Linked DNA regions of Homo sapiens. The protein of the gene in region 1 purifies or fractionates together with the protein of each later gene. This does not show direct contact. Each region holds a gene or a part of one and is shown on either strand. Other genes may lie near its edges.

Evidence for each region. The genes of interacting proteins can lie anywhere in the genome.
Region 2: the proteins of XRCC1 (region 1) and ATF1 purify together in Homo sapiens (co-immunoprecipitation; one large-scale study listed by IntAct). This does not show direct contact.

Annotation. Positions count from the first base shown.
Region 1 is NC_000019.10:43,551,505-43,557,077, forward strand, and holds part of XRCC1 (DNA repair protein XRCC1), read right to left. Parts: intron 3,301-5,573; coding exon 3,142-3,300; intron 2,180-3,141; coding exon 2,105-2,179; intron 2,009-2,104; coding exon 1,897-2,008; intron 1,588-1,896; coding exon 1,478-1,587; intron 1,405-1,477; coding exon 1,293-1,404; intron 772-1,292; coding exon 513-771; intron 184-512; coding exon 67-183; intron 1-66. UniProt on the Homo sapiens protein: Scaffold protein involved in DNA single-strand break repair by mediating the assembly of DNA break repair protein complexes. Negatively regulates ADP-ribosyltransferase activity of PARP1 during base-excision repair in order to prevent excessive PARP1 activity.
Region 2 is NC_000012.12:50,766,017-50,770,798, reverse strand, and holds part of ATF1 (cyclic AMP-dependent transcription factor ATF-1), read right to left. Parts: intron 4,749-4,782; exon of another isoform or gene 4,652-4,748; intron 4,111-4,651; exon of another isoform or gene 3,646-4,110; intron 1-3,645.

The DNA.
Region 1 (5,573 bases):
TCCCCTCCAGATTCCTGGCATTGCCCAGCACAGGATAAGGAGCAGGGTTGGCGTGTGAGGCCTTACCTCTGGGAGGGCAGCCGCCGACGCATGCGGTGACAGTCCAGCACCCACTCCTTACGCACGATGCGGCCTCCCAGGCCTAGGACCTGGCTGTACTTGGGGGTGTTGGCAAAGGCACAGCTGGTGGGGGGCAGAAGTGAAGATGCCAGTTAGGTGTGATCTGAGGGGCAAAGGGGAACGAGACAGGGGAGACAGACAGAGAGAGAGAGAGACAGACAGACAGACAGATCATGAGATTGAGGTGGGAGAAACAAAAAGAGGTTGGAGACCAAGGGAGAGATGCAAAAATCAGAGAGAAGACAAAGGCTACAGAATGCAGTGAGAAAGAAAGCAAGTGAGAGAGAGAGAAAGCATGCAGCATAGTGGACACAGAGAAAGCACAAGGTGGAGGAGACACAGGGAGCTGGGGGAGAAACTGCAGCGGCGCAGGGAGGGGGGCGCAAGCCTACATGAGGTGCGTGCTGTCCCGGGTCCAGTCTGGCCGATACTTGGCCCCAAGCTCTAGGGCCTTATCTCGCAGCTCGGAGCGGAAGGGGTTCTGGAAGCCACTCAGCACCACTACCACACCCTGAAGGATCTTCCCCAGCTCCTCTGGGCCAGCTCGGGGTCGTCTGGGCTCGGTGCCTTCTCCTCGGGGTTTGCCTGTCACTGCCCCCTGTGCTCGGGCAGGGACTGGGGCTGTGGCTGGGGTACGAGTTGGAGCTGGCACTGGAGAAGACAAAGAGTAGATTAGGTTAGCACCACTGGGGGTCAACCCCCAGCCCCTCCTCCCTCAGACCCAGCAGTCCAGGCCCCAGACCCTCCTCCCTCAGACCCAGCAATCCAGGCCCCAGCCCCTCCCCCCTCAGACCCAGGGGTCCAGGCCCCCAGCCCCTCCTCCCTCAGACCCAGGAGTCCAGGCCCCCAGCCCCTCCTCCCTCAGGCCCAGGAGTCCAGGCCCCCAGCCCCTCCTCCCTCAGACCCAGGGATCCAGGCCCCCAACCCCTCCTCTCTCAGACCCAGGGGTCCAGGCTCCCAGCCCCTCCTCCCTCAGACCCAGGGGTTTAGGCCCTCAGCCCCTCCTCCCTCGGATTCAGGAATCCAGGCCCCCAGCCCCTCCTCCCTCAGACCCAGGGGTCCAGGCCCCCAGCCCTTCCTCCCTCAGATTCAGGACAGCAGGCTCCAGCCCCGCTTCCCCTAGGACACAGGAGCACAGGCCCCTGTGGAAACAAGGGATCTAGTTAGCTCACATTTAGGTCTCTTGGGAACAGATGGCGACAGCTGGGCTGGTGGTTTGCTGGGGGTCTTCTTTTCTTCTTGGTTCAAATCCAACTTCCTCTTCCCTTTGGGAGACTCCTGGGGCTGAGGGGATGGGGATGGATTGAGGCCTCCAGCTTCTCTCCTCCTCCACCCCACCAAAGTCTGATGATTTCACCTTGGAGGTGCTGCCTATGGCCCTGGAGACTGGAGAGGCTGAGGAGGCAGCACTAGAAGCCTGGAGGGTAGCAGCTGCATAGCTAGGTCCTGCTGGGTCGCTGGCTGTGACTATGAAGGGAGAAAGTGGATCCAGGATGAGAGGGCTGAGCCCCAAGACCCTTTCACTCCTATCTATGGGACACAGAATATTGTTGCCAAAACCCACCAGTGATCCAGGAGTCCCAGCCTCCAGACCTCTCAACCCTCAGGACACAAGAGGCCAGGCCCACCTTCCTCCACCCTGAGACCCAGGAGTCCAGGACTCCACTACCCTCCTCCCTCAGACCCAGGAATCTGAGCCCCAGCCCCCTCTACCCTCAGACCCACGAGTCTAGGTCTCAACCCTACTCACTCAGGACCCACGTTGTCCGAGCTCACCTGGGGATGTCTTGTTGATCCGGCTGAAGAAGAGAGCCCCCGGCCTCAGAGAGTTGGCGCTCTCATCCTCCTCCTTCACACGGAACTGGCCAAGCTTGGTCACTGTCACCTTCTAAGGTCCCGCAAGGTCAGTATTATAGGTGGGCTGCTGGCAGGTGGGGGTGGAGAGGCAGGGAGAAGGCCATGGGGAGTGACAGGTACAGCTTACCTGGGACGGGGCCTCTGCCTCATCTTTGTCTGGGGGGCTATGAAACCGTACAAAACTCAAGCCAAAGGGGGAGTCCTGGGAAAGGAGGGGTGGGAGTCAGGGAGTCTGGCCCAAGGACAGAGGCCAGGGCCCAAGACCCTTTTCACTCAGGGAAACCTCTTCCTGGCTCCTTCCCTCTCATGAACACCCATGTTGAAGGAGGGGCCCTGGCGATGGTGATGACAATTATAGGATTAAGCTGTTATGACTGAGCCCTAACTCTGAGTCTGGCTCCAAGCCCTTTTCACGCATTAGCTCTTTGGGCAATTGGCAGAGTCTACTAGGTGTCCCAGCGAATTCACTGCCCTATGCACAAACTCCTGCCTGTGGAATGGGAGGGAGTGCTGCGTGCCACTTCCAGAACACAGAAGTGTTCCAGGCTCTCTCCTCTGCCAGCTGGATGCAGAGCCAGAAAATAGGAGAAGTCTGGGTCCCTGCACGACCTCATAAGGAGAAGCCAGCTGACAGGCTAAACACTCCCCAGGACAGTTACCTGGGCAAGAAGCACACCTTTAGTGTGTGGCATCATCACATACTCCAGTCTCACTGTTACCACAGCTTTTAGCATCCCTTAACCTACAGCAACCCTGTAAGGATCAGGCAATGGAGGCCCAGAGAGCGTAAGTCACTTGCCCAAGATCACACAGCTAAAAAGTGGTATAGCCAGGACGTGAACTCAGTAATCAGACGCCAGATCTCCTGATGTTAACTACTAGGCCCACTCTACTAGGCCACCTCTCTAACAAGTCAGTTCCCCTCCTCCGATTCCCCTCTGAGATGCTGCAGTTCACCCTTCCTAGATTCCTCCGGGAGATGAAACTTCTCATTACAGGAAAGATCCCAAACCCATTTCAGGGAACGCAGGGACCCAGCCTCCCCATAATCCCATGGGACACCAGCTGTCTACTCCTCCCAGCCCTATGGGACTCAATATTGGCCCTTATTTCCCTCCTTGCCCAGGACCAAGGACTCTGCACCCTGGCTCCCACCCTAGGTACCTTGCTGTAGGGCTGGCTGCAAACAATTTTGACCCGGTCCCAGCGCTTCTCGGCGGCTGCCCGGACCAGCTTGTCAGGCCCAAACATGCGAACGCGGTTGGGGTTTGAGCCACTGCGGCTCTCGGAAGGGGACATGAAAGATGAGGTGACCAGAAGGACCTGGGTGGGAGAAGCCACAGTGCATGAGAACCAGGGCAGGTTGGCTTAGATGAGAGCTTCTAGGGGCTGGGGAAGAGGGCACAGGGCCCACACAGGGGACTGGGAGTCACTAGAATGTAGCTTGGGCCTAGATGTCTCCAGACCCTTTGTTTCTAGGCCTTGAGTCAGTCCTGCCCTGACACAGGCCCCAGAGGGATCTCTTTATCCTCCAGATGTGAGCGACCCTTATCTAAATTCTCCCATGGAGTCTTCCATATCTGGCAATACAGCGGGCTACATGTCCTAAGGAACTTTCCCGGCAGAGAATATTCAGTAAACTGGCACAATATTCAAACACCTTTTGGAAATGCACAGGTGAGTCAGCGGAAAGGCAAGGGGAATTACTAGAGGCTGGAAATGAGAAAACAGAATCCAGAGAGTCAGGCGAGCTGCACTAAGTATTAAGTGATTGTTTCTCAGCTCAAACCTACCCTCTACAACTCATCTCTGTGATCTGGGCCCGCACTTGGCAAACCACCTTTCTGCTTCCCTAGCTGATCGTGACCAGGCTCTGCCAATAGGGGGGGCAAGAGAGAGAGTTTGCAAGGCTGCAGGAGGGAGGAAGGACCAGCTTCTCGTGCATTGCAGATCCTGTGAGCATCACCCCCAGTTAAGCTTCTGCTGCTGCAGTGGTTCCTGCCTGCAGCAGCAGATGAATCCAGTTTGCAGTGTCCCAATACCTCCAGAAACAGCCTCATTCAGCCCCTCTCAGCAGCCGGTGGGGGAGGAAGCCCTCCTCAAACGATCTGAATTTCAGCTCCTGGAGCCCCACCTCCCAGTTTCCAAACATCTACGTTTCAATAATTCCTGCTCCTTTCTTTTGTTCCCCCAACCCTGGGAGTGGTAGCTACTCCCTGCGGTTGCTTCTCCCTCATATCTTAGTCTTCTAGTAACACCTAGTTACTGGTTCTTTCTATCAAATTATCTGTTAAAATAACTGGTGTGGTTTTAATCTCCGGGCAAGGACCCTGACTGACCCGGCAGCACTCATGTTGGTAGTTTGTCATGGTGCTGATCCCAGATAGCAAATAACTTGATTTTATTTATTATTATTATTTTTTTAAGAGACAGGGTCTTTCTCTGTCACCCAGGCTGGAGCACAGTGGTGCGATCATAGCTCACTGCAGCCTCGACCTCTGGGTCTCAAGTGATTCTCCCACCTTGGCCTCTGAGTAGCTGGGTCTAGAGATGCACGACACCACACCTGGCTAATTTTTTATTTTTTGTAGAGGCATGGTCTTGCTATGTTGCCCAGGCTGGTCCTGAACTCCTGGCCTCAAATGATCCTCTCACCTCAGCCTCCCAAAGCTATAGAAGTACAAGTGTAAGCCACCACACCCAGCTAGAACTTGATCTTTAAGGGTTATGCACGTGGTGGTGAAAGAGAACAAGAGAGAAAACCTAGGCTCCAAGCAAGGGAGAGTGGCATCTCAGAGATCCTCACCACACTGCATAGAACTGAGGACTCCCCAAAGGCAACGCCCACACTAGTTACATGAAGGGGAAATAAGCCTGTGGAAAGAGTCCCTGGGAGGCCTGTCTGTCTTGGCCTTAGCTTGGGGGGACACCAAAGAAGAGGTGAAAATTCTTCTCGGGAGAACTCCTCACAAGTCTGTTCTCTCAAGGAATTGAGAGTAGCAATTCATGTTAGCAATCTGCATTGAAAAACCCAAGCTGAGGCCAGGCGCGGTGGCTCACGCCTGTAATCCCAGCACTTTGGGAGGCCAAGGCAGGCGGATCATTTGAGGTTAGGAGTTCAATACCAGCCTGGCCAACATGGTAAAACCCCATCTCTACTAAAAATACAAAATTTAAGCCAGGCATGGTGGCAGACGCCTGTTGTCCCAGCTACTCGGGAGGCTGAGGCACGAGAATTGCTTGAACCCAGGAGGCGGAGGTTGCAGTGAGCTGAGATCGCACCATTGCACTTAAGCCTGGTGGACAAGAGGCCAGGAGTTCAAGACCAGCCTAGCCAACATGGTGAAACACCGTCTTTACTAAAAATACAAAAATTAGCTGGACATGGTGGTAGGCACCTATAATCCCAGCTACTCGAGAGGCTGAGGCACAAGAATCGCTTGAACCCAGGAGTTGGAGGTGATGGTGAGCCGAGATTGTGCCACTGCATTCCAGCCTGGGTGACGGAGCAAGACTCTGCCAAAAAACAAAAAACGAAACAAAAAGACTGGGCACAGTGGCTCACACCTGTAATCCCAGCACTTTGGGAGGCCAAA
Region 2 (4,782 bases), on another chromosome or scaffold:
ACAAGAATACGCAGGGTTAGCCTAAATTGCAGAAACAAACTTAAAAACAATTAATGAGACCAGAATTTAATAACAAGTGTACCATAGTTTTTGAAACATAGTATTTCTCTCTCCAGTTTCCCATTTTTACTAAAGACAAATTATGGTAAGACTGACTTGCTTTATTATACTTGGCCTGATTGTTTGTATAAAGTGCAGCAAGAATAATAATTTTTCACATAGGCTTTTTAATTGGCTTTGATGGAACTCTGTTTCATAAGGAATCTCAGATAAGACTTTTTTAAAAGCCAAGCCCTGACATGGGTTTGTACCCTTAAATACCTATAACTTGGGTAAATTTCTCTCCTTTTGAGGTCCCAAGATAACTTGGGGCTCCTGGACAGGTGAGAAAGTGACATTCTTTACTTACCATAGGTCAGAAACCCTGTACAGGCACTGTGTAGGCAAGGTATGAGGCCAGTTCCCCAAAGGGCTTTTATTGGCTCTACAAGTCAAGTTTGATTCCTTAAAGAAAAGCACACCATTTCAGTCAAAGCCTTGGTAAAATAACCACTTTCTCCAATTGTATTCTGTTACAAAAGAAAACAGATTCTTATTGCACTTATGCAAATAATTACATTGCCATAAGTTAAGAATACTCACAACTAGTTTCCAAATTCTGGAGAAATCTGATATAGAGAAACAAATATGTTCCAAATTTCGTTCACAGCAGTATACTTTACTCAATTGCTATGAACTGTAAATAGCTCAAATGAAAAGTTTCCTTGACTCTGAAAAACAAAACAAAGGATCAGCAACATTTTAATCAAAGATTACTTCAGTTTTCTATTGGTTCAGTTGATTCAATTAACTCATGTTTCATTTGATATTCATGAACATTCTAGCTCTTCATGAGTTCTGAAAGTTGTTTCCTCTATTCTAATGTTACAATTTCCAAAGTTATTAGAAACCTGCATTTAAGAACACCTGCTAGAGTTCTATAGCTGATTATAAATCATCTTCTAAACAGGATTAAAACAAGACAACAATTGTCTGTGGATGATAAAAAGTTTTAGGAGAGCCACTATTAAAGCCAGAAATGATAAGGAAATTTGGTTACTTCTGTGGCACACAATATTTTGCATAACAATTATAATTATTAATAACATACACTAAATCATATTAGAATTATAGGAGTTTCCCATAACTTTGGAACATATACCAATAATACAGTTATGTAAATATAATCCAAAGAAAGCAAAACACCATTTGACATTTGATAATGCTTCCTGTATGAATTTTTTTTTTTTTTGAGATGGAGTCTCGCTCTGTCACCCAGGCTGGATAGAGTGCAGTGGTGCAATCTCAGATCACTGCAACCTCCCCCTCCCAGGTTCAAGCGCTTCTCCTGCCTCAGCCTCGAGTAGCTGTGACTACAGGTGTGCGCCACCATGCCCGGCTAACTTTTGTATTTTTTGATAGAGATGGGGTTTCACCATGTTGGCCAGACTGGTCTCAAACTCCTAACCTCAGGTGATCCATCTGCCTCGACCTCCCTAAGTGCTGGGATTACAGGTTTGAGCCACTGTGCCCGGCCAACTTAGAATAATTATTTAACTCTTTAGCCAAAAAACCCCACATTTCCATGCCTTCTTATAATCTTTTACCAAAAGTACATTCTATTTTCCTTACTACACACCTTACATGTAAAACTGTCTCTTCAATAGTCTCAGTTACATGTTCCAATTTTAACTTTTAGCGACTTTTACTTTTGGTGAAAACCCTGGTTAGTAAGCAATTTTAATTATGTACTAGGTGTGGAGCCTAGCCTAGGACACACCAGGCAGAAGTGCAGATAAGAGCTGACTCTCCAGCACAGCTTAGGGGCGTGGCTAACTCCACATGTCCCCAGGCCTTATCTAGAATCTAATGGCTTTAAGGTAGGGTAAATTGAACAATTTTTAAAAGTCAAAGAAACAGTTTATGACCTCAAATCATTTAACAAACTTAATATCTGACCTGCATAATTAAGATTAACATTTTTATCAATTTTAAAGATGTGTTTATTTCCTAAAGATTACTAAAGTTACATGAACTAAAAGGCATTAGTTATTTTGCTTTCAAAATATTTGATTTAAATGTTTATTTTTGTTTAAGCTGATTAATCAGAGCTCTTTTATATAAATATTACACACGACACCTATATAGCTACACAGAAAGACAGATGATGATGATAACAGTGGTTGTAAGATTTTTCATTTGCCAGTTTTTAAGTTTCTTAATTGGATTACCGGCTTCAGGGTGGAGCCCTTGGAAGAACAGGGCCACGAAAGGGGTCTCTGGTGCCTCTTGTTTTTCCCAAGGAGTCCAGGCTGTTAGAGCTTGAATATCCACTTTTAATTAAACTTATTTTAACCATAGCACTCTTTAATAAAGTCCTTTTAGAAGTTTTTATGCCAAACGGCTGGTATTTCTGGCTTTTGAATTTTATCAAAGGTAACCTCCCAGGTGCTTAGAAAAAGGAAAATATAAGACAGTTCACAGAGGAGAAGAGAATAGACAAAGTCATGCAGATATTAAACCAGAAACGACTTACTTCCTAGGTGGGTAATTGAACCTGGACTGTTGCCACGGAAGTGCAAAAGCTGGCTGGGTGCGGTGGCTCATGCCTGTAATCCCATCAGTTTAGGAGGCTGAGGCAGGTGGATCACCTGAGGTCAGGAGTTCGAGACCAGCCTGCCCAATATGATGAAACCCCATCTCTACTAAAAATACAAAAATTAGCTGGGCGTAGTGGCACACACCTGTAATCCCAGCTACTTGGGAAGATGACGCAGGCAAATCACTTGAACTCGGGAGGCGGAGGTTGCAGTGAGCTGAGATCGCACCACTGCACTCCAGCCTGGGCGACAGAGCAAGACTCCATCTCAAAAAAAAAAAAAAAGAAAGTGCAAAAGCTTAGCTACTGAGCTACAGCACAGGGCAGTCTCTGTTGACCTTCCCAGAAGGAGTCTAGAGTAGTTAATTTTGAGCTTATAAGGGCTTTTAACTATTTAATATTATTTTTAGAGCTAACTATGACATGAATCCTGAAATTCCTGTTCTCTGAAGGTGGGGACCAAAAGAAAGTACCACCACATGGTTAAAAGGTCAAGCTCCCAAGGACGTAAAACAAGGTGGAGACTTCATCCAGTCTTTTATTTGTTACAGGGACCTGCAGCCAAGTATCTTACTGACCAGCTTGCTGGGTCATCTTGAAAAGCGAGCTTACAGGTGTTCTTTTTTTTCTTTTTTTGAGATGGACATGGAGTCTCGCTCTGTTGCCAGGCTGGAGTGCAGTGGCACGATCTCGGCTCACTGCAACCTCCGCCTCCCGGGTTCAAGTGATTATCCTGCCTCAGCCTCCCAAGTAGCTGGGACTACAGGCGCACGCCACCACACCCAGCTAATTTTTTGTATTTTTAGTAGAGATAGGGTTTCACCATGTTGGCCACGGCTGGTCTCAAACTCCTGACCTCAGGGGATCCACCAGCCTCAGCCTCCCAAAGTGCTGGGATTACAGGCCTGAGCCACCGTGCCAGGCTGATTTTTTTTTTTTTAACCATTCACTTAACCATTTGTACAGTGAGAGAGAAGCCAGAAATCTGACTGGTAATACATTCTTACCCTTTTGCCAGCATCCCAGGCTTCTGGGTTCCCTTTCCCTTAGTGGTCCTAGTGTTCAAGCTTGCAGCATCATTGCCCTGGGGGCCAAGCCGTATCATAAAGGAAAATTATGTTTTTTCCATTCTGGCCAGAGCAAAATACGTGTGATAAAACAAAGACATTAGCCACTCCGCTTAGCACCCAATATCAAACTAGCAAGGCTTAAATTTGCCCCCAGATGGGCCTGTCATCTTTAATTCAACCTCCGACTTGGAGTTTCAACATGTGGCCTCTAGGTAAGATGGTTGCCCTGAGTAATAGAAAAAATAAGAAACGCAAAGTAGATAAGAAAAGTATTGCCTGTGGCAGGGTGGGGAAGCTGAAGAGCTTAGGGAGGCCAGAGAAAAGACCCACTCATTGCAGCCGACAATGAAAACCTCAGGCAGCCGCTTGTACGCAGCAAAGGGACCTTTTCCAGCAGTCCCATCAGCTCTCAAGATTCCCCTTTTATGGGGGGAGGGGGGAGGGATAGCATTGGGAGATATACCTAATGCTAGATGACGAGTTAGTGGGTGAAGTGCACCAGCATGGCACATGTATACATATGTAACTAACCTGCAAAATGTGCACATGTACCCTAAAACTTAAATTAAAAAAAAAAAAGACTCCCCTTTTAGAGAGGAAAAAGCTCCCCATGTCCCACGATCCTGTTCATGCCTAACTCTGTCACCCACAGCCATCAGCAAAGAGCGCAAGGCAGATTAATCCAAAGAGAACAGCAGTTAATATCCCATAGTGCCAAACCTGTTCTTAGCTGAGAGGGAGTTACCTGAGAGGGACTCTAACTCCCTATATCTTAGAAGGGCCTCCAACCCAAGGTCAGTCAAGCTTAAGCGTCCTTGCCTTTTATTAAGAGGGGCCTCGAACCCACTGTCTTAGGAGAGACTCCTAAACATAAATACTGGGTTTCCGCAGTATAGTCGCTTCTGTGGCCACCACAAATACGTTACAGGACCCCAACACTTACCCAAAGGTAGCCGTTGGGTCAGGGTTTCTGCACTATAGTCCCTTTGTGGTCGCCAGAAATATGTTACAGGACAGGCGTCCTGATCCAGGCCCCAACTGAGGGTTCTTGGATCTCGCGCAAGAAATAATTCA